Linked DNA regions of Homo sapiens: region 1 is linked to region 2. The links come from fine-mapping of genetic effects on gene expression. A gene starts in region 2. The other region holds a variant in brackets. All regions are shown on one strand. Distances are between the middles of the regions. Region 1 overlaps PMM2 (phosphomannomutase 2). Region 2 holds the start of CARHSP1 (calcium regulated heat stable protein 1).

Region 1 (10,107 bases), 26 kb before region 2:
TATTTAGATCTTGTAGGATGGAAAAACTGAAAGTGCCGTTTTCTGGCTATTTGGAACTACTGTCGAGTTTGTATTGGGGTCAAGTGGAATTGCAGAAGAAAATAAGGCATTTATTTAGGTTTTAGGTCAGGTGTGAGTTGAAGAGGTTTTAAGTTCTTAAGAACACAGGCTAAGGGAGAAGAAAGGAATGGAAGGTGGAAGCTTGCCCATAGTGAAGGAGGTAAGCCCAGAGAAAAGAGTAGAGACACGGAGAAGGGGTGGGGGGTTCTTGCCCTCCAGAAAAGCAGAGAAGGGGTTGGGGCACGGAAATAAGGGATTGGGGCACAGAGATATAAGAGATTGGGGCGCAGAAATAAGGGATCGGGGCGCAGAGATACATGGGGTTGGGGTACTTACCCCTCCCCTAGAAAAGCAGAGAAGGGGTAGAGACACGGAGAGAAGGGGTTGGTGTACTTGCCTCTCCGCCAGAAAAGTGGGACTTGCCGCTAAGGGTGAAGGACCAAGGCAGGCGTCCCTGCATGGTCTGACACCTTTGAAACGTGGGTAAATAATCAGGCGTCCCTGCAGTGATTAAACACCAAGGGAAGGCTGCCTTCCCAGTCTCTGACCGGCGCCGGAGTTTTGAGTCCACAGATAAAATGTGTCTCCTTTGTCTCTACCAGAAAATGAAAGGAATTGAAATTAAGGGAGAGATTGAAGTGTTTCATGCGCGTCCGTGTGAAGAGACCACCAAACAGGCTTTGTGTGAGCAACATGGCTGTTTATTTCACCTGGGTGCAGGCGGGCTGAGTCCGAAAAGAGAGTCAGCAAAGGGTGGTGGATTATCATTAGTTCTTATGGGTTTTGGGATAGGCGGTGAAGTTAAGAGCAATGTTTTGTGGGCAGGAGTGGATCTCACAAAGTACATTCTCAAGAGTGGGGAGAATTACAAAGAACCTTCTTAAGGGTGGGGGAGATTACAAAGTACATTGATCAGTTCGGGTGGGGCAGAAACAAATCACAATGGTGGAATGTCATCAGCTAAGGCTATTTTTACTTCTTTTGTGGATCTTCATTTACTTCAGGCCATCTGGATGTATACGTGCAAGTCATAGGGGATGCGATGGCTTGGCTTGGGCTCAGAGGCCTGACATTCCTGCCTTCTTATGTTAATAAGAAAAATAAAATAGTGTTGAAGTATTGGGGCGGTGAAAATTTTTGGGGGGTGGTATGGAGACAGAATGGGCGATGTTTCTCAGGGCTGCTTCAAGCGGGATTAGGGGCGGCGTGGGAACCTAGAGTGGGAGAGATTAAGCTGAAGGGAGGTCTTGTGGTAAGGGGTGATATTGTGGGGATGTTAGAAGAAACATTTGTTGTATAGAATGATTGGTGATGGTCTGGATACAGTTTTGGATGAATTGAGAAACTAAACAGAAGATCCAAGGTCCAAATAAAAGAAGGAGAAAAATGGGTATTAAAGGACTAAGAATTGGGAGGACCTAGGACATCCAATTAGAGAGTGCGTAAGGGGGTTCAGCGTAATTACTTGCTTGGTTGGCAAGTTTTTGGGCTCTATGCTTGAGTTTTTTTATGTTGTCATACATCAGGCCAGATTGATTTAGGTAAAAACAACACTCTTCATTTAAGAATATGCAGAGTCCTCTTTTTTCAACAGTGAGTAAGCAAGGCCTCGGTGGTTTTGGAGGACAACTGCAGCTAAAGAGTCAACTTGGGCCTGGAGGACTGATAAAGTTTGTGACATGTCTGTGATGCTAGCAGAGAAGTCATTAGACAGGCTACGGAAGGTCATGACAGAGGTTGAAATGCCTGCTATTCCAGTACCGAGAGCAATAGTGGAGGCAGAAAGTCCTAAACCGACCATCAAGGGAATTAGTGGAATGACTCTTCTTTGTTGTGTCGGTGTCATGAGGGGAACAGGGAGCTCTTCGTTCCTATTTGCAAATTGAATTTTGGGAGTAAGGAAGACTAGTGTGCATGTGCCTGTCCAATTAGCAGGTAGACACATGTTAGGTAAAGGATCCACAGAGGAAGAAGAGACCTTGTGCGAGGCAAAACTGGAGATGTAAAGTAAAAAGATGAGGAGTGCTGCAAGGGGTGTCTTGTACCTAGAGTCCTAGGGATCCAGCTAGGGCGGCAGCTGTCAGAGGTTGTAATGGGGACTGATGGGGTAACTGCATAGAGGGGGAGGTTCGATTTTCATGGTGTATGAGAAAACGTTGAGTATCTACAAGCAACCTTTCACTATTATTTTCGGGGCTGGGTAAAAGTAAACAAGAGGAGGGCCTGGGAGGAAGAGTCTGATGAGCAAGGGGAAAGTAGCCAAGGATGGAGTGAAATACAGGGCAAGTGTCTTCCTAAGCAATAATTACTGCTAATGTTTTTAAGTTTGTCAGTATTGATAGCGGGCTTGTCTGTAATATGGAGCTGGAAGGCTCCCATTGTTTGAGTGATGTGTGTAGTTGGACTTTGGAGATGAAGAGTAAAGGAACATCGAGAAGGTGAAAGATTACCTAGGGGAATTCCAGTGGGTCTTTGCCGAGAGATACATATAGGAGCGGCCACAGGCATAGTAGTTTGTGTTGTGAGAGGTCCGAATATGGGGGGAGAAAGGAGAAAGGAGAAAGGTTTTTTAAATAAGTGTGAAGGAGGGCGGCAGCTTGCTGATGTGAAATGTCTGGGGAAGTCTTGCTGGACCTGTCTAGAAAGTAAATGAGTTCTTCAGGAGGGTAAAGGTGAGGGCTGTTACAGGAAGTTCGGAGGTGTAGGGAGATGGGAGATGTTGCCCAGTCTGTCTGTAAGGTGGGGACAGCTGTGTAGGCACTGGAAGAAAGGGAAATGCAAAGCCAGCAGTTGTTCACTAAGGAGGGATTAGAAGCGGCTAGGAGAGAATGGGTAAGGTTGATAGTGTGGTGGAGATAGCTGGGGAGAGGTAGAGGGTGGCATAAGAATGGGAATGAGAATAAGAGTGAGTATAAAAGTAAAGAATAGAACTTCATCAGGGTGGAAATATTGGAGGGTGCCTTGCCAGCAAAGATCATCTATCCACTCTAAGAGGGAGTTAAGAGTGGCAGTTTGGGGATAGCACCAAGAGATATCAGCTGTGATGGCTTGAAGAAACAGTGTAAACCGGCCGTGTAAACAAGAGTAGGGCATTTATAAGTAGTTGAGAATGGAGAATAGGAGTATGACCAGACAGAAGATAGTAGGGATGACTAGTTTTTTGGGGCTCGGCCTAAGTGGTGGGGGTGACTTCGTAAAGCCCTGTTGCAAAAAGTAGGGTAAGGACGAAAAACCTAATAGAATGAAGGGATGTATTAGGCTCATAAGGGTTATGACTGTTCTTCGAAATACGACTGAGTTTAAGGGAAGTAGGGGAGAGTACTTGCAACTTCCAGGAGGAAGAGGAGGGATTAGGCTGGCTGTCCGATGGACACAGCTTTATTCTGGAACGGTGAGCCTAGTGGGGAGGATCCTGCAGGCGGACAGCAGTCGGGGTACTATAGATGACTAAGTAGGGTCCGGTCCATCGAGGTTGTAGAGTTTGAGGAGTCAGATTAACAAGAACTGATCGTCCAGCTAGGGTGTCTTCATATGGCTGGGGATCTGGAGTAGGCAAGAGAAGCTTAGCAGCCTGGCGAATTTCCTGTCTAGCCTGCTGGAGGACTGGAAGACAGTCGCCTAGAGGGCTGGTGTCTGGGATGAGGTTGGGGCCAAGCAAGAAAGTGCGTCCATATAAAAGTTCAAATGGACTGTACCTACCCTGTAGCATCTCGAGAACAGGCTCTAATTCTGAGAAGAGCAAGAAGTAAAAGTACTGTCCAATCCTTTTTAAGTTGGAGGCTGAGCTTGGTGATGTGTACCTTTAAAAGACCATTAGTCCGTTCTACCTTTCCTGAAGATTGAGGACTGTAAGGGATATGAAGGTTCCACTGAATACTAAGAGCCTGAGAAACTGCTTGGGTGATTTGACTAGTAAAGGCTGGTCCGTTATCAGACTGTATAGAGGTGGGAAGGCTAAACTGAGGAATTATGTCTGACAGAAGGGAAGAAATGACTGCGGTGGCCTTCTCAGACCCTGTAGGAAAGGCCTCTACTTATCTAGTGAAAGTGTCTACTTAGACTAAGAGGTATTTTAGTTATCTGACTCGGGGCATGTTGAGTGAAGCTAATTTGCCAGTCCTGGGTGGGGGCAAATCTTCAAGCTTGATGTGTAGGGAAGGGAAGGGGCCTGAATAATCCCTGAGGAGTAGTAGAATAGCAGATGGAACACTGAGAAGTTATTTCCTTGAGGATAGATTTCCACGATGGAAAGGAAATGAGAGGTTCTAAGAGGCGGGCTAGTGGCTTGTACTATAGCATAGCCTGCCTTTGCTGCTATGTGGCGATTAGGCCTGGTGGAACCGCCATCAATAAATCAAGCGTGATCAGGGTGAGGAACAGGAAAGAAGGAAATATGGGGAAATGGGGTGAATGTCAGGTGGATCAGAGAAACACAGTCATGGGGGTCAGGTGTGGTATCAGGAATAATGTGGGAGGCCAGATTGAGGTCCGGGCCAGGAACAATGGTAATTGTGGGACTTAACAAAGAGTGAGTACAGCTGAAGGAGCCGGGGAGCAGAAAGTATATGCATCAGGTATGAGGAAGAAAATGGATTTTGGAAGTTATGAGAAATGTAGAGAGTGAGTTGAGCATAGTTTGTGATTTTTACGGCCTCTAAAAGTATTAAAGCAGCGGCAGCCGCTGCACGCAGACATGAGGGCTAGGCTAAAACAGTAAGGTCAAGTTGTTTGGACAGAAAGGCTACAGGGTGTGGTCCTGGCTGTTGTGTAAGAATTCTGACCGCACTAACCATGCCTAGGAAGGAAGGGAGTTGTTGTTTTGGAAGGGATTGAGGTTTGGGAGATTAATCAGACAAGATCAACAGGCAGAGCACGTGTGTTTTTATGAGAATTATGCCGAGATAGGTAACAGATGAGGATGAAATTTGAGCTTTGGAGGGGGATACCTGATATCCTTTGGAGAGTAAATGCTGAAGGAGCAGAAGTGTGTCTTGTTGAGAAGATTCAAAGGAGGGGCTACAAAGAAGAAGGTCATCAATATATTAAATAAGGTGAGAAGCGGAGGGGTGGAAAGAAAGTAGATCATGAGAAAGAGCTTGGCTGAAGTAATGAGGGCTGTCCCTGAAACCTTGTGGCAGCACAGCCCAGGTAAGCTGCTGGGACTGATGGGTGTCAGGGTCAGTCCAGGTGAAAGCAAAGAGAGGCTGGGACAAGGGGTGCAGGGGAACGCTGAAAGAAGCATCTTTAAGATCAAGTGTGGAATAGTGAGTTGTGGAGGAAGGTATTGAGGATGAAAGAGTGTATGGGTTGGGCACCACAGGGTGGATAGGCAAAACAATTTGGTTGATAAGGCGCAGATCCTGAACTAATCTGTAAGACTTGTCCGGTTTCTGGACAGGTAAAATGGGGGGATTATAAGAAGAGTTTATAGGTTTTAGAAGCCTATGCTGTAGCAGGCCAGTGATAACAGGCTTTAATCCTTTTAAAGCGTGCTGTGGGATGGGATATTGGCGTTGAGCGGGGTAAGGGTGATTAGGTTTTAATGGGATGGTAATGGGCATGTGATCAGTTGTCAGGGAAGGAGTAGAAATGTCCCATATTTGTGGGTTAAGGTGGGGGGATATGAGAGGAAGACGCAAAGGAGGCTTTGGGTTGGGGAGAAGGGCGGCAATGAGATGCGGCTGTAGTCCAGGAATAGTCAGGGAAGCAGATAATTTGCTTAAAATATCTCGGCCTAATAAGGGAACTGGGCAGGT[G/A]GGGATAACTAAAAATGAGTGCTTCAAAGAGTAATGTCTAAGTTGGCACCAGAGTTGGGGAGTTTTAAGAGGTTTAGAAGCCTGGCCGTCCATACCCACAACAGTTATGGAGGCAAGGGAAACAGGCCCTTGAAAAGAAGGCAACATGGAGTGGGTAGTCCCCGTTTCGATTAAACAGTGGGTGGACTTACCCTCCACTGTGAGAGTTACCCAAAGCTTGGCGTCCGTGATGGTCTGGGGGCTTCCAAGGCGATTGGGCAGCGTCAATCTTCAGCCGCTAAGCCAAGGAGTCAGTCAGAGAGCCTTGGGCCAGAGTTCTAGGGGCTCTGGGAGTGGCTGCCAGGTGAGTTGAACAGTCCGATTTCCAGTGGGGTCCCGCACAGATGGGACACGGCTTAGGAGGAATCCTGGGCTGCAGGCATTCCTTGGCCCTGGTAGTCAGATTTCTGGCACGTGTAGCAAGCTCCTGGGGGAGGAGGTTCTGGAGGAACGCCTGGCCGCTGCGGTTCAGGCATTTGGAAGTTCTTGTGTGCTGGAGATGTGGCTGGGGTTTGTCTCACAGTGGAGGCAAGGAATTGCAACTTTTTTCTATTATTGTACACCTTGAAGGTGAGGTTAATTAAGTCCTGTTGTGGAGTTTGAGGGCCAGATTCTAATTTTTGGAGTTTTATTTAATGTCGGGAGCAGATTGGGTAATAAAATGTATATTGAGAATAAGACGGCCTTTTGACCTTTTAGGGTCTAGGGGCTGAGGAAGAATTGGAACCTAGCTCGGCCTGGCGAGGAGGGGAGAGGTCAGATGGGTCTGTAGAAAAGGAAGATTAGAAAGACTCAGCAACGCTTGGGGTTGGGACTGAGGGGACAGGCGGGAGGGAAAGAAGGAAGATTTGGGACGAGTTGCACTGGGCACAGAGACTAGGAAGGGACTGATGTGTAAAAGAATGCCTGGACATCAGGCACCTCAGACTGTTTGCCCATTTTACGACAAGAATTATTTAGATCTTGCAGGATGGAAAAATTGAAAGTGCCGTTTTCTGGCTATTTGGAACTACTGTCGAGTTTGTATTGGGGTCAAGCGGCATTGCAGAAGAAAATAAGGCATTTATTTAGGTTTTAGGTCAGGTATGAGTTGAAGAGGTTTTAAGTTCTTGAGAACACAGGCTAAGGGAGAAGAAGGAGGAATGTAGGAAGGTTGCCCATAGTGAAGGAGGCAAGCCCAGAGAAAAGAGAGCGTAGAGACATGGAGGGAAGGGGTTTGGGGGTTCTTACCCTCCAGAAAAGCGGGAAAGGGGTTGGGGCATGGAAATAAGGGATTGGGGCACAGAGATACGAGTTTGGGGTACTTGCCTCTCCCCCAGAAAAGCGGGACTTGCCGCTAAGGGTGAAGGAGAAGGGGTTGGGGGGTTCTTGCCCCTGCCCCAGAAAATCAGAGAAGGGGTAGAGACACGGAAAGAAGGGGTTGGGGTCCTTGCCCCTTCCTCAGAAAAGCGGGACTTGCCGCTAAGGGTTATGGACCAAGGCAGGTGTCCCTGCGTGGTCTGACACCTCTGAAACGTGGGTGAATGATCAGAGGCGTCCTTGCAATGATTAAACACCAAGGGAAGGCTGCCTTCCCAGTCCGTGACCGGCGCCGGTTTTTTGGGTCCACAGATAAAACGTCTCCTTTGTCTCTACCAGAAAATGAAAGGAATTGAAATTAAGAGAAGGGAGAGATTGAAGTGTGGCGCCTAGATTGAAAGGAGAAAGACGGTGAGGGATAGGGAGGTTGGAGAAGAGAGTAAAAAGAGGCTGCTTATTGGATTTGAAATTGGTGAGATGTTTCTTGGGCTGGTGGGTCTGAGGACCTGAGGTCGTAGGTGGATCTTTCTCATGGAGCAAAGAGCAGGAGGATAGGGGATTGATCTCCCAAGGGAGGTCTCCCGATCTGAGTCACGGCACCAAATTTCATGCGCGTCCATGTGAAGAGACCACCAAACAGGCTTTGTGTGAGCAACATGGCTGTTTATTTCACCTGGGTGCAGGCGGGCTGAGTCCGAAAAGAGAGTCGGCAAAGGGTGGTGGATTATCATTAGTTCTTATGGGTTTTGGGATAGGCGGTGAAGTTAAGAGCAATGTTTTGCGGGCAGGGGTGGATCTCACAAAGTACATCCTCAAGAGTGGGGAGAATTTCAAAGAACCTTCTTAAGGGTGGGGGAGATTACAAAGTACATTGATCAGTTCGGGTGGGGCAGAAACAAATCACAATGGTGGAATGTCATCAGTTAAGGCTATTTTTACTTCTTTTGTGGATCTTTAGTTACTTCAGGCCATCTGGATGTACACGTGTAAGTCATAGGGGATGCGATGGCTTGGCTTGGGCTCAGAGGCCTGACAGTAGGTGTTCTAGAAAGGTGTGTTGTGTTAATGTGTGAATACTGACTCCCCTCCTCAGTCACTGAGGCGGGGAGGGTGTTTGGCTCTTTTGAGGCATGTGAGAGTTGGTTGTGCCTTTGGTTTTTTGTTTGTTTTTTTTTCTTTTGAGTCTCGCTCTGTTGCCCAGGCTGAAGTACAGTGGTCTGTTCTTGGCTCACTGCAATCTCCGCCTCCCAGGTTCAAGTGATTCTCCTGCCAAGCAGCTGGGATTACAGGTGCGCACCACCACACCCAGCTAGGTTGTGCCTTTGTTAGGTTCTCTGTGACTTTTACCCACTGTGCCATTCCTGAAAGAAATCTTTTTTTTTTTTTTTTTAATTAGAAGAATTACTGGAACTAGCTTGGCACTGTTGGACACAGTCTTTGTCTCAGCTACTCGAGAGGCTGAGGCAGGAGGTTCGCTCGAGCCCAGCCTGGGCAACATAGCAAGACCCTATGTCCGAAGGAAAAAAAAGGCAAAATCAGAATTACCAGAACTGATTTCACATGTGTAGGTAGCAGATGGTGGCCATGCAATTCAGGTCTGTCTGAAGGCCCCCAGGCCTGGTACAAAACTGTGTAAGGCCAGTACAAGGCCCTGACAGGTTCCCAAGTGGCTGGACTGGAAGAGATGCCAAGTTCATGGCCTCCTAACCTGACTCCACCCAGCACTCCCTGGGCCCAGCGACGTTCCCTCCTGAAGCCTGAAATTCACCTCCACCTGAGGAGGCCATCTGCCTGGGGATAGGTTCTTGCAAAAATGAAAACACTCATTTCCAGAGGCAATTAATTCTTTTAAAGGATGTCAGATTTTTGGTACAAAATCATGGTTTCCACGTTGGCTTCATGCTCGGTGCTTTATGAGAAAAATCCCTTTTTTCTACGGTTGTGTTCATTGTATTGTAAAGCAATCGTAGATTATTTTAAGGTTTTGAGTTAGAGTGATTATCCAATTTTATGAGGGAAATAAAGGAATTCCATGAGAAAAACGGGGGCTTTCCTGCAGGGCTCGGGGTTGCGGGAGCGGCAGATAACCTGATTCATTAACGTGAGCCCAGTGGGATTGGTGGGGGTGATGGGGACACAGATGGGAGCACTCAACTCAGGCACAGGACCCCAGCAGAACATGCCCAGGTCCTCCTAGACATGGGCCCTTGCAGACTTTCTGAGGCCTCGGTTTCGTCATCTTACCAAGGTGTGACCCCAACCATCATCTCCTGAACTTCTGGCCACAGAGCTGTGAGCAAGCTTCCATCATGACCCCATTTTGGAGATGGGGAGTTGGCGCAGCCACACTGCTGCTCAGTGGTAGAACCAGCATCTGACCCAGGCCACCTGTTCCAGAGACCCTGCTTTTAGCCAGCAGCTCAGACCCCAGTCATGTGGGGCCATTTATTTATTTATTTAAGATAGAGTCTCCCTTTGTCGCCCAGGCTGGAGTGCAGTGGTGCGATCTCGGCTTACTGCAACTTCCACCTCCCGAGTTCAAGCAATTCTCCTGCCTCAGCCTCCCGAGCAGCTGGGATTTCAGACGTGCGCCACCATGCCCAGCTAATTTTTGTATTTTAAGTAGAAATGGAGTTTTGCTGTGTTAGCCAGGTTGGTCTCAAATTCCTGACCTCAAGTGATCCACCCTTCTCAGCCTCCCAAAGTGCTGGGATTACAGGCATGAGCCACCATGCCCGGCCCACGTGGGGCTGTTTAAATTAAAATCAAATTAACTGAGTTCCTCCATTGCATTGGCCACGTTTCAAGTGTGCAGAGTGACACATGGCCAGTGGCTGCCATCACCGCTGATGTCGCCACGTCCCTCATCACAGGAATATCCCTGGCAGCCCTGCTCCCGGCCCTCTGCCCTCCTGACGCTCCCTTGTGACTTGTTAGAAAAGCGTAGGTACAG
Region 2 (10,290 bases):
CTCAGGAATCATGCCGCGTCATCATCATCATCACTGTCATTGTCACCATCGTCGTCCTCCTTGCATCTTCCATTTGTCACACCCATTTTCCCCTGGGTGAATGGCACAGACCCAAAATGGGGGCCCCCTTCTTTCTCCACCCAAGCCCCCTCAACACCCCAAGTGCACCCAATCCTTCAGAGATGCCACTGGAAGCTCATGGCCTGTAGGGGTGAGGAGTCTGAGGGCAGCACAGGGCCCCTCTGTGTCCCAAGGGCCCAGCACAGGCACTGGCACAGAGCAGGGTCTCCAGACGGTCCAGGAATGGCCACAAGGATGGCTTTTTTTTTTTTTTTTTTTTTTTTTCAGATAGGATCTCACTTGGTCACCTAGGCTGGAATGCAGTGGCGCGATCATGGCTCACTGAAGCCTCTCAACCTCCTGGGCTCAGGTGATCCGCCCACCCCAGCCTCCTGGGTTGTGGGACTACGGCCACGTGCCACCACAACCAGCTCATTTTTTGTAGAGACAGGGTTTCAATATGTTGCCCAGGCTGGTCTTAAACTCCTGGGCTCAAGCGATCGGCGCACCTTGGCTTCCCAAAGTGCTGGGATTACAGGCGTGAGCCACCACACCCAGCTTCCAAGCCTCATTCTTTGCCAGCATTAGGACCCAAAGCCCCAGCTGGCTGCCACTGCATTGGTGTGCACTCAGCACCATGCCCAGCCCAGCAGGAGGTGGCTACATTCCTGCTCACCTGATAGTGGAAGAAACTGAGGCACGGAGCAGACGTGACTAGGGGCGGGGGCAGTGCCAACTGGGAGACCCAGGAGCTTTATCCAGCCTCTCATGGCCCATCTGGGCTGAAGCCAAGCTGGGGTGGCCAGAGTAGGCCTGGCCAAGGGCCACTCACTCCCCAGTAGGCCCAGCAGAGAGGAGTGAATGGCCTCAGTGCGGGGGAGGGCCGGGCAAAGTCCAGCTGGAAAGAAAACAACTGGGGGGCGGGTAACCAGGCACCCAGAAGCCAGCTCTGAGGCCCTGGCCAGCCTCTGCTGTGTCCCCTCCACAATACACACATACACAAGGATGGGGCCACACAGCAGCCCCGCCCACCAGCACAGTCCCAGCTTCCAGCCAGCCACTGCTCTCCCAGCAATACCAGGCATGGCCTTGGAGTGTCCCCAGCAGAAGACAGGGCCTGCCCTCTGTGACTAGCCTTCAGCTCCCCACAGCTGGGGGAGGGAGGAAGGCTGCAAACAGATCCGCCACTCAGATGAGCTTCTGGCCTGCAACAAACTTCGACCAAATGTCACGACCAAGGTGTCATGACTGCCAGGCTGCATGTACATGTGTGCTCGTTTGTGCACAGGTATGTAGGTGTATGCACATGTGTATGTGTGTGCTGTGTATATACGCATGTGTACACATACATATGTGCCCACACATGGCTGTCTCTGCATCTGAGCGCATACACGTGTATGCATGCGTGAACTTGTTGCCGTCTGTATGCACACGTCCATGGAGCGGGGAGCCTCACCTCACCGCACAGCACGCTGGGCACCTGTGCTGCCACAGGGGACCTTGATGAACTCTGCCACTTCCTATTGAACCAACAGATAAGGGAGTGGGACAGACCATGACTACCACCACCACAGCAGTGTCCTGGGGCCATTCTGCTTACTACTTTACAACACTTCACACAGCCCAGCTCATTCTATCCCCATTTCACTAATGGGAGAACGGAGACACAAAGAGTCAAGTAACTTGCCCAGGGTCGCCCGGCTAACAAAGACCCTGGTGAAATACGGAGTAAGTCAGACAGCAGAAATGCTACGGAGAAAAAGCCAGCAGGGTAAGGGGGAGAGGCTGCACCAGGAGGTGCCCAGCTGGCCATGCACCCCCTTCCCCAGTCAGCCCCCAGGCTCTGATGAGTGCCCGGCCAAGGGAGGGAGCCCAGGGTGGTGGGGGCAGGAAGCCACGCCCACCCTGACTGCCCCAGGGATGGGTGTGTCGGCTGGGAGAAGGGGGCCTCGGCCGAAAATAGCCTGGGAATTTTCCGTAGGCTCTGCAGCTCCTCCTGGAAGGTTCTGGAGTTCAGCTGGGTACCAAGACTCTGGCTTTCCCAGCCCCTGCTCAGCCTGCCCGCATGTCTGGAGACTTACGGCCCAATCATGCAGCCCCCATTACCCACTCCCCAACTTCCTGCCCTCCTGGCCTGAAAACCCACCACCCACATCAATGGGAGCCAAGCAGCCCTGTGCTTACTGCAAGGAGGGCTTTAGCAGTGCTATCAGCCATTTACACTCTAGTAAGAGGGAGCTCATTGAAGGAGACTCCATTCATTTTTGTTTTTGTGAGACAGAATCTCCCTCTGTTGCCCAGGATGGAGTGCAGTGGCACAATCTCAGCTCACTGCAGACCCCCGCCCCCCAGGTTCAAGCGATTCTCCTGCCTTAGCCTCCCGAGTAGCTGGGACTACAGGCATGTACCACCACACCCAGCCAATTGTTGTATTTTTAGTAGAGACGGGGTTTCACCATTTTAGCCAATCTGGTCTCGGACTCCTGACCTCTCATGATTTACCCGCTTCAGCCTCCCAAAGTCCTCGGATTACAGGCATGAGCCACCGTGCCCAGCCAGAGATTCCATTCTTAATAGCTTCAGCCCCTTTATTGAAGACAGGATGATAGAAGGCAGGGGGATAAGAGTTCAAGTCAGACACCTCACTCTTGGCAAAGCGAGAACCTCTCCAAGCCTGCTCTGCAAAATGAGGGTGTCTTGAGCCTTCCATGGGATGCTGGCTGGGGAAGGCCAGGGTTGGGCATGGTGTTGGGGCAGCTTCCAGCCCGGAGCCAGCCCACTGCTGGCAGGTGTGGTGGGTAGTGGCCCGCACTATGGGGATGGGGCAGGCTGTAGTGCTTTCATACACCCTACAGCCACTGTCCACAGACTTCTGCGTCAGGCCCTGTTGGGGGATTACAAACATCAACTACATGCACGTAAACATCGACCCAACAGGGGAGGCACTTTTAGCAGCCCTGTTTTACAGATGAGGAAACTAAGGCACAGAGTTAAGCCAGTGATTCTACTTCCTACTTTAATGCAGTCAGGAATCTCTGGGGATCTTGTTCAAATGCAGATTGCCATTCAGCAGGTGTGGGGTGGGGCCTGAGATTCTTCATTTCTTTTTTATTTTTTTTGAGACAGGGTCTTGCTTTGTTACCCAGGCTGGAGTTTGGTGGCACAATCATGGCTCACTGCAGCCTCAACCTCCTGGGCTCAAGGGATCCTCTCACTTCAGCCTCCCAAGTAGCTGGGACTACAGGCGTGTGCTACCACACCCAGCTAATTTTTTTATTTTTTGTAGAGACAAGGTCTCACTGTGTTGTCCAGGCTGGTCTCGACCTCCCAGGCTCAAGAGATTCTCCCACCCCGGCCTCCCAAAGTGCTGGGATTACAGGCTCCAGATTCCTGGCCAAGATTCTACATTTCTAAGGCGCTCCCAGTGAGGCAGCTGTCCCTGACCCAGGGAACACGGCAGTAGCCGGGCTACACTGGCCCATCTCACAGCCCAAGGCTTAACAGTGCAGGAGGTGGAAGGGAAATGGCGCAGGGATCGGGGTGAGACTCTAGCAGAGTAGCGAAGTTACCTTAGTGCACCTGGGTTCCTCCTTTGTAAACAGACAGAGACACTGAGCTGACCCATCCCAGTCTCCAGCGCAGCTGAGCCCCAGCCTGGGAGAACTGCCGGCACGTGGGCCGAGAGGCGGGGCGGGTCAGCTGAGCCCAGATAGAAGGGTCCCTGGAAGCGATAGAGGCCGAGAACGAGCCAGAGGTTGACGCAGCAGCGTCAGGCTGGCCTAGCCACATTCCCCTCCATTGTTCCGGGGAGAGCGGGGGGTCTGGCGAGGGAGGAGCAGAGAGAGAGGAGGGGGAGGGACACGAAGGGATGGGGGTTGGAGTGTCCAGGGGGAGGGACGGGAGGCAAAGGGGAGGGGGCAGCCAGGCCGGAGTCAGCCCTCCGCTGGCTAAGGACCTGAAGCCAACAGTCACAGAGAAGTGCAAACAGGCGGGCAGGGAAGGTGCAGCCCGGCGCCTACGTCTGCCCAGAGCCCCCTCCCAGGCCCCGCCAAGCTGGGAATAGCTCTTCCGCCCTCAGGAGCCCCTGAGTGCTGGGAAGAGGCCGGAAACCCGAGGAGTGTACCGGGAACCCAAGGGGGCCTCCAACATTGCCATTGCCTGTGCCCCCATTAGCACCCCTGGACGGCCTCGACCGGACGGGCGACCCCACCCAGCAGGGAGACGGTCACCCCACCGCCACCACCCACCTGGGACCCTGCGCCCGCCCCAGTTCTCAGCCTGGACTGCCCCTCCTGCGGGAAGCCCAAGCCCTCCTTCTCAACAAGAACCCTACTCTACACGCCTCCCCCACTCAATCCCTCCATCCTTCCCTCCATTCTCGGGGGGCTTTGGCTCAGACCTGAGATTGAGCCCTGACTGGTCCCCACTCCCTCTGTGACCCCTGCCAGGCGATTTCACCGCCCCACCCGAGTTTCCTCATCTGTCAAAGGGGACAGGAGCGGTGCTGCGTCGCAGGGCTCGGACGCTGTGCAGATGGTGCCGCGAAAATGCCAAGCGCACGGCGGGCTCAGTCCACAATAGTGCGGCTGATGGTGGAAGTGTCAGGCACGGGCCCATCTGAAATCACCTTCCCTCCCATTCCTGCCCCTGCTGATGGAACACAAACCAAATGCGCTGGCTTTGCCACTCGGTGGAACAAAGACCGATCCCCTACCTAGGGGACCCACCGTCAACCACCCTCAACCCCACCCCATGGCCCCACGCCAGGCCTAGCTCAGCTCATTGAAAACATCTACTCCCAGCCGGGCTCTGCGCCTCTTTCTTGCCCTGAAGGGACCAGCATCGAGAACTCACGGTCATCACCGAGGCCACCCAGGGAGTGCAGAGGGCGGTGGGGTCTCCAAGGAGGACCCCGAGCCCAGAGGAGGGCCAAAGGCCCGAAGGGAGGGAGAACAGAGGCAGAGAGAGGCTGGAGAAGGTAGTGGCGGAAGATAACAGGAAGCCCTGCTGAGAAGTTGGGGACTTAGACGACAATGGGACTTCGGTGGACGATTTTCAGCGTGGGGTAGATCTAAGCGGATTGTTTTTCTAAGTTCCCTCTGGCTTCAGAGTGGCAGCAAATGACAGGGGCAAGCAAGACTGGGCACAGAGAGACTGAGAAATATCAAAACAGCAAGTTAAAAAACAGTAGCTTACGTGTCTCCCGGCACGGGGCTAGCTGCCTCCTTTTACTCTCACACACCCTCTCATGCCAGAAGAAGTCAGAGCCCAGTCTGCAGATGGGGAAACTGAGGCTCCGAGAGGCCTCCTATTTGGCAGAGATTTCCCCACCTATTAAGACCCAAGGCCCTGCCTGGAGCGGGACGTCTCCGCCTCCCCCAGCACACACATCCACTCCAACCCCAGAAAACCATAGGGCCGGAGGCTTCCTTTTTAAAAATCAAAAAAGAACATTTCACTTCCGGCCTGCAAACCTGAACCGCCAGCGCAGCCTGCGGAAAGGGGGCCTGTGGGCGCGGGTGAAGTTTTTCTCCAGCGCCTAAGGCACCCCCACCCCCATCCGGGCGCAAACACCCGGGCCCAGCGCGCCCGGCGGCTCCTCCTCCCCCAGATGCGGCTAATCGCGCGGCGCCAGGACGGCTCCCCACCTCCCCCGCCGGGCCTGGCCGCCGTCCCAACCTCGAGCCACAGCTGGCGCGGCCAGGCCCGGCGGGGGGTGGCTCTGCTTCCCGCGTGCGACGCCCCCCGCGCCTCGCCCCACCGCCCGGCGAGTCCCCCGTCCAGGGCTCCCGCCCAAAGGCAAAAGCAGCGGGGAGGGCGGGAAGAGCTTCCCCTGCACGCAGAGAACAGGTGGCCAGGCGGGAAGTACTACCCGACGTCCGCCTAGAATCCTTGCCGCTGTTGCCACACCCACCCCTTCCCCTGGGGAGGAGCAACCCGCGTTCCCCAAACAGGCCCCGAGAAACCCAGCCCGGAGCCCTCCTCTGCCGAGCTAGAAGACCCTGCAGGATGGGGGACGATGGAGGCAGAGGAGGCCGAGGCCCCACCCCTGCGGCTCCCGGGGCCGCGGGCCAGGGGCGCCTATCCTGGGGTCCCCGAGAAGAGCTCCCTACCCTGCAATCCGTTCTGCTCCGCCAGCCGCTTCGCTCCGACTGAGAGCGCGGAGCTGGGGAGGGGGCGTGGCCCGAGGGGGGGTGGGGCGCCGATCCCCGCCCCCAGGAGCTCCCGGCCAATGGGGCTGCGGGAGGGAGCCCGGGACGGTGGGGGCGGGCGGGGCGGGAGTGGCCCGGACAGGACCTTTGTGTCCGCGCCTTAGACTGGCGGGAGAGCGGAACGCAGAGCGCGGGACGTAGGGGCCGGGGCGGGGCGGGGCGGGGCGGAGCTGGGCTGCACCCACCAGCAGAAAACGCCCCTGCAAAGTGGGGGAACTGTGTCCCTGCGCCCGTGCAGTTCCTTCCCCTCGCCACGCGCGCCAGGTGCGGCTCCCACCTGCCTTTGGCTCTAAAATCTGTATAATCCCGGAGGGTGTCACTTTTAGCAGAAAGGAAATAAAGGAATGAAAAGAGAGACGGAAGAAAACAAGCAAAAAACAGAAAGGAGGAAAAGGGAAAGAAAAAATACACACGCACACACACACCAGAAAAACAGGGTTTTGTTTTCTCGTTGGGGATTTTGATTTTGTTCTCTTCTCTTGTTTCATTTCTAGCCTTCCTTGAGTCCTCTGTTTTTGGAGGTAAAAAATGTTACCTCTGTTTTGCAGGAGAGGAAACTGAGGCACAGAGAGGCGACCAGCCCATGGGCACGGCCAGTCGAGAGCAGCCCCTGAAGGCGAGCCTAGATCCCGGGACCAGGGTCAGCTTGGTATTTGAGGGGCGCGGGGAAGGAGAGAGGTCCCCGGAGCTCGCCCGGGACAACAGGGCCCCCGGAGGCGGCGGTGAGGACTGTGCCTGCCTCACTCTGCAGCCCCTATTGGGGCCACTGGGGAAAAGGCCCAGCAGCGAAACCAACTAGTCCAAGCCAGGCAAGGAACCGTCCTAGACGGCTGGTGGGAACAACCGCGCAGCTGCTGTGGAAAAAGCCCGGCGGTTCCTCAAACCACGAGCCCTGGAGTCTCCATAAAACCCATCAACTCCACTCCTAGGTGTCTGCGCGCCCAAGAGAAATAAAAATGTTTGTCCACACAAAAATTTACTTGAGGCCGGGTGCGGTGGCTCACGCCTGTAATTCCAGCTCTTTGGGAGGCCGAGGCAGGAGGATCACTTGAGCTCAGGAGTTGGAGACCAGCCTGGCCAACATGGCGAAACCCCGTGTCTATGAAAAATACAAAAATTTGCCGGGCTTGGTGGCGGGTGCCTGTAATCCCAGTTACTTGGGAGACTGAGGCAGGAGAATCACTTGAACCCGGGAGGTGGAGGTTGCAGTGAGCCAGGATCATGCCACTGCACTCCAGCCTGGGCGACAGCGAGTCTCCGTCTCGGGGGGGAAAAAAAGTTAAAAATAAATAAATAGGCCGGGCGCGGTGGCTCACGCCTGTAATCCCAGCACTTTGGGAGGCCGAGGCGGGCGGATCACGAGGTCAGGAGAACGAGACCACGGGGAAACCCCGTCTCTATTAAAAATATTAAAAATTAGCCGGGCGCGGTGGCGGGCCCCTGTAGTCCCAGCTACTCGGGAGGCTGAGGCAGGAGAATGGCGTGAACCCGGGAGGCGGAGCTTGCAATGAGCCGAGATAGTGCCACTGCACTCCAGCCTGCCTGGGCGACAGAGCAAGACTCCATCTCAAAAATAAATAAATAGATAAATAATGATTTACTTGTTGGGCTGGGCGTGGTGGCTCACGCCTGTAATCCCAGCACTTTGGGAGACCGAGACAGGAGGATCTCTTAAGCCCAGGAGTTTATGACCAGCCTGGACAACATAGTAAGACCCCTTCTTTACCAAAAAAAAAAAAGTTTTAATTAGCCAGGAGTAGTAGCACCCACCTGTAGTCCCAGCTACTGGGGAGGCTGAGGTGGGAGGATCCCTTGAGCCCAGGAGATCGAGGCTGCTGTGATCCGTGACTGCACTGCTGCACTCCAGCCTGGGTGACAGAGTAAGATTTATAGCAGTATTACTCATAGTAGCCAAAAGGGAGAAACAGCTCAGATGTCCATCAAGTGATGAAAGGATAAACAAAATGTTGTGTATCTATACAGTAGACAACTATTCACTCATCAACAGGAATGAAATCTTGATGCAAGCTACAACATAGAGGAACCTTGAAAATATGCTAAGAGAAAGAAGCCACACAAAGGCCGCACTTTGTGTGATTCCATCTGTATGAAATGTTCTGAATGGGCAAATCTCTAGAAACAGGAAGTAGATTAAGGGTTGCCAGAGGCTGGGGGTGGGGGTGCGGGCTAGACGGTTGATACTTAAAAGGTACAGGGGTTTCTTTTTGAGATGATGAAAATGTGCTGAAAGTGATGGTGGCGATAGTTGCACAAGTCCGTGGATATACTAAAAATCATTGCATTGTGTGCTTTCAATGGGTGAACTGTATGGTGTGTGAATTATGACTCAGTTAAGCTGTTTTTAAAAAGTCAAGGCCAGGCACAGTGGCTCATGCCTGTAACCCCAGTACTTTGGGAGGCCTGGGAGGGCGGATCACTTGAGCTCAGGAGTTCACAACCAGCCCAGCCAACATGGTGAAACCCTGTCTCTACTAAAAATACAAAACTTATCCCGGTATGATGGTGCACACCTGTTATCCCAGCTACTCGGGAGGCTGAGGCATGAAAATTGCTTGAACCTGAGAAGTGGAAGTTGCAGTGAGCCGAGATTGTGCCACTGCAGTCCAGCCTGGGCGACAGAGCCAGACTCCACCTCAATAAATAAATAAATAAACAAATAAACAAGCGGGGACACTGGGGTGGGGGTGGGGGGAGGCCATGACCAGGAGGGGCACAAGGTGGGATTCTAGGATCTGGTAAACTTCTGTCCCTCAGTCTGGGTACCTGGGTGGGTTCACTTTATGAAAATTCATCCACGGCCAGGTGCTGTGGCTCATGCCCATAATCCCAGCTACTTGGGAGCCCAAGACAGGAGGATGCCTAGAAGCCAGGAGTTCAAGACAAGCCTGGGCAACATAGCATATTTTATTTCTAAAATTAAAAAAAGAGGAAGAAAGAAAGGGAGGGAGGGAGGAGTGAGAGAGAGAGAAAGAAAGAAAAAAGAAAAAGGGCTGGGCACAGTGGCTCATGCCTATAATCCCAACACTTTGGGAGTCTGAGGCAGGCACATCATGTGAGCGCAGGTGTCAGAAGTTACAGTGAGCTATGATCATGCCACTGCACTCCTGGGCAACAGAGGGAGGCCCTGTCTGTAAACAAACAAACAAACACGGACTTTGCTTTTTAGGGCAGTTTAGGTTTACAGCAAAATTGAGCAGAAAGGGCTGGGCCTAGTGGCTCACACCTGTAATCCCGGCACTTTGGGAGGATCACCAGAGGTCAGGATTTGAGACCAGCCTGGCCAGCATGGTGGAACCCTGTCTTTACTAAAATAACAAAAATTAGCTGGGCGTGGTGGTAGCGCCTGTAATCCCAGCTACTCAGGAACCTGAGGCTGCAGAATTGCTTGAACCCAGGAGGCAGAGGTTGCAGTGAACCGAGATCGCGCCACTGCACTCCAGCCTGGGCACCAGAGTGAGTCTCCATCTCAAAAAAAAAAAAAATAGCTGGATGTGGTGGCACATGCCTCTGGTCCCAACTACTTGGGAGGCTGAGGCAGGAGGATACATTGAGCCCAGTAAGTCGAGGCTGCAATGAGCCATGATTGCACCACTGCACTCCAGTCTGGCAATACAGTGAGAAATCCCGTCTCAAAACAAAACAAAACAAAACAAAAAAACTGACCAGGCGTGGTGGCTCACACCTGTAATCCCAGCACTTTGGGAGGCTGAGGCAGGCGGATCACCTGAGGTCGGGAGTTTGACACCAGCCTGAGCAACATGGAGAAACCCAGTCTCTGACAAACTACAAAATTAGCTGGGCATGGTGGTGCTTGCCTGTAATCCCAGCTACACGGGAGGCTGAGGCAGGAGAATCAACCGGGAGGTGGAGGTTGCCGTGAGTTGAGATCGCACCATTGCGCACCAGCCTGGGCAACAAGAGCGAAACTCCATCTAAAAAAAAAAAAAAATGCTGAGCAGAAAATACAGGGATTTTCCAAACACTCCTGACCAGCACA

What was found. PIP is the estimated chance that this variant, and not a neighbour inherited with it, causes the effect.
Region 1: its variant is fine-mapped to the expression of CARHSP1 in lung (TOPMed, PIP above 0.99).

What each region holds. Positions count from the first base shown.
Region 1 is chr16:8,837,269-8,847,375 of GRCh38, forward strand. All of the region lies in intron 7 of PMM2 (phosphomannomutase 2), which reads left to right. Among named protein-coding and RNA genes, the nearest start is that of CARHSP1, 27 kb to the right of the region's middle. RefSeq lists an enhancer at 9,222-9,813. The variant G/A (reference allele first, on the strand shown) is at 5,817.
Region 2 is chr16:8,862,793-8,873,082 of GRCh38, forward strand. It overlaps CARHSP1 (calcium regulated heat stable protein 1), which reads right to left and starts at 6,214. Exons shown (of 4, transcript NM_014316.4): 1 at 6,174-6,214. It overlaps CARHSP1-DT (CARHSP1 divergent transcript), which reads left to right and starts at 6,489. Exons shown (of 2, transcript NR_186721.1): 1 at 6,489-6,536; 2 at 6,821-7,247. RefSeq lists enhancers at 1,435-1,594, 3,094-3,731, 3,732-4,371, 5,377-5,436 and a silencer at 5,577-6,536.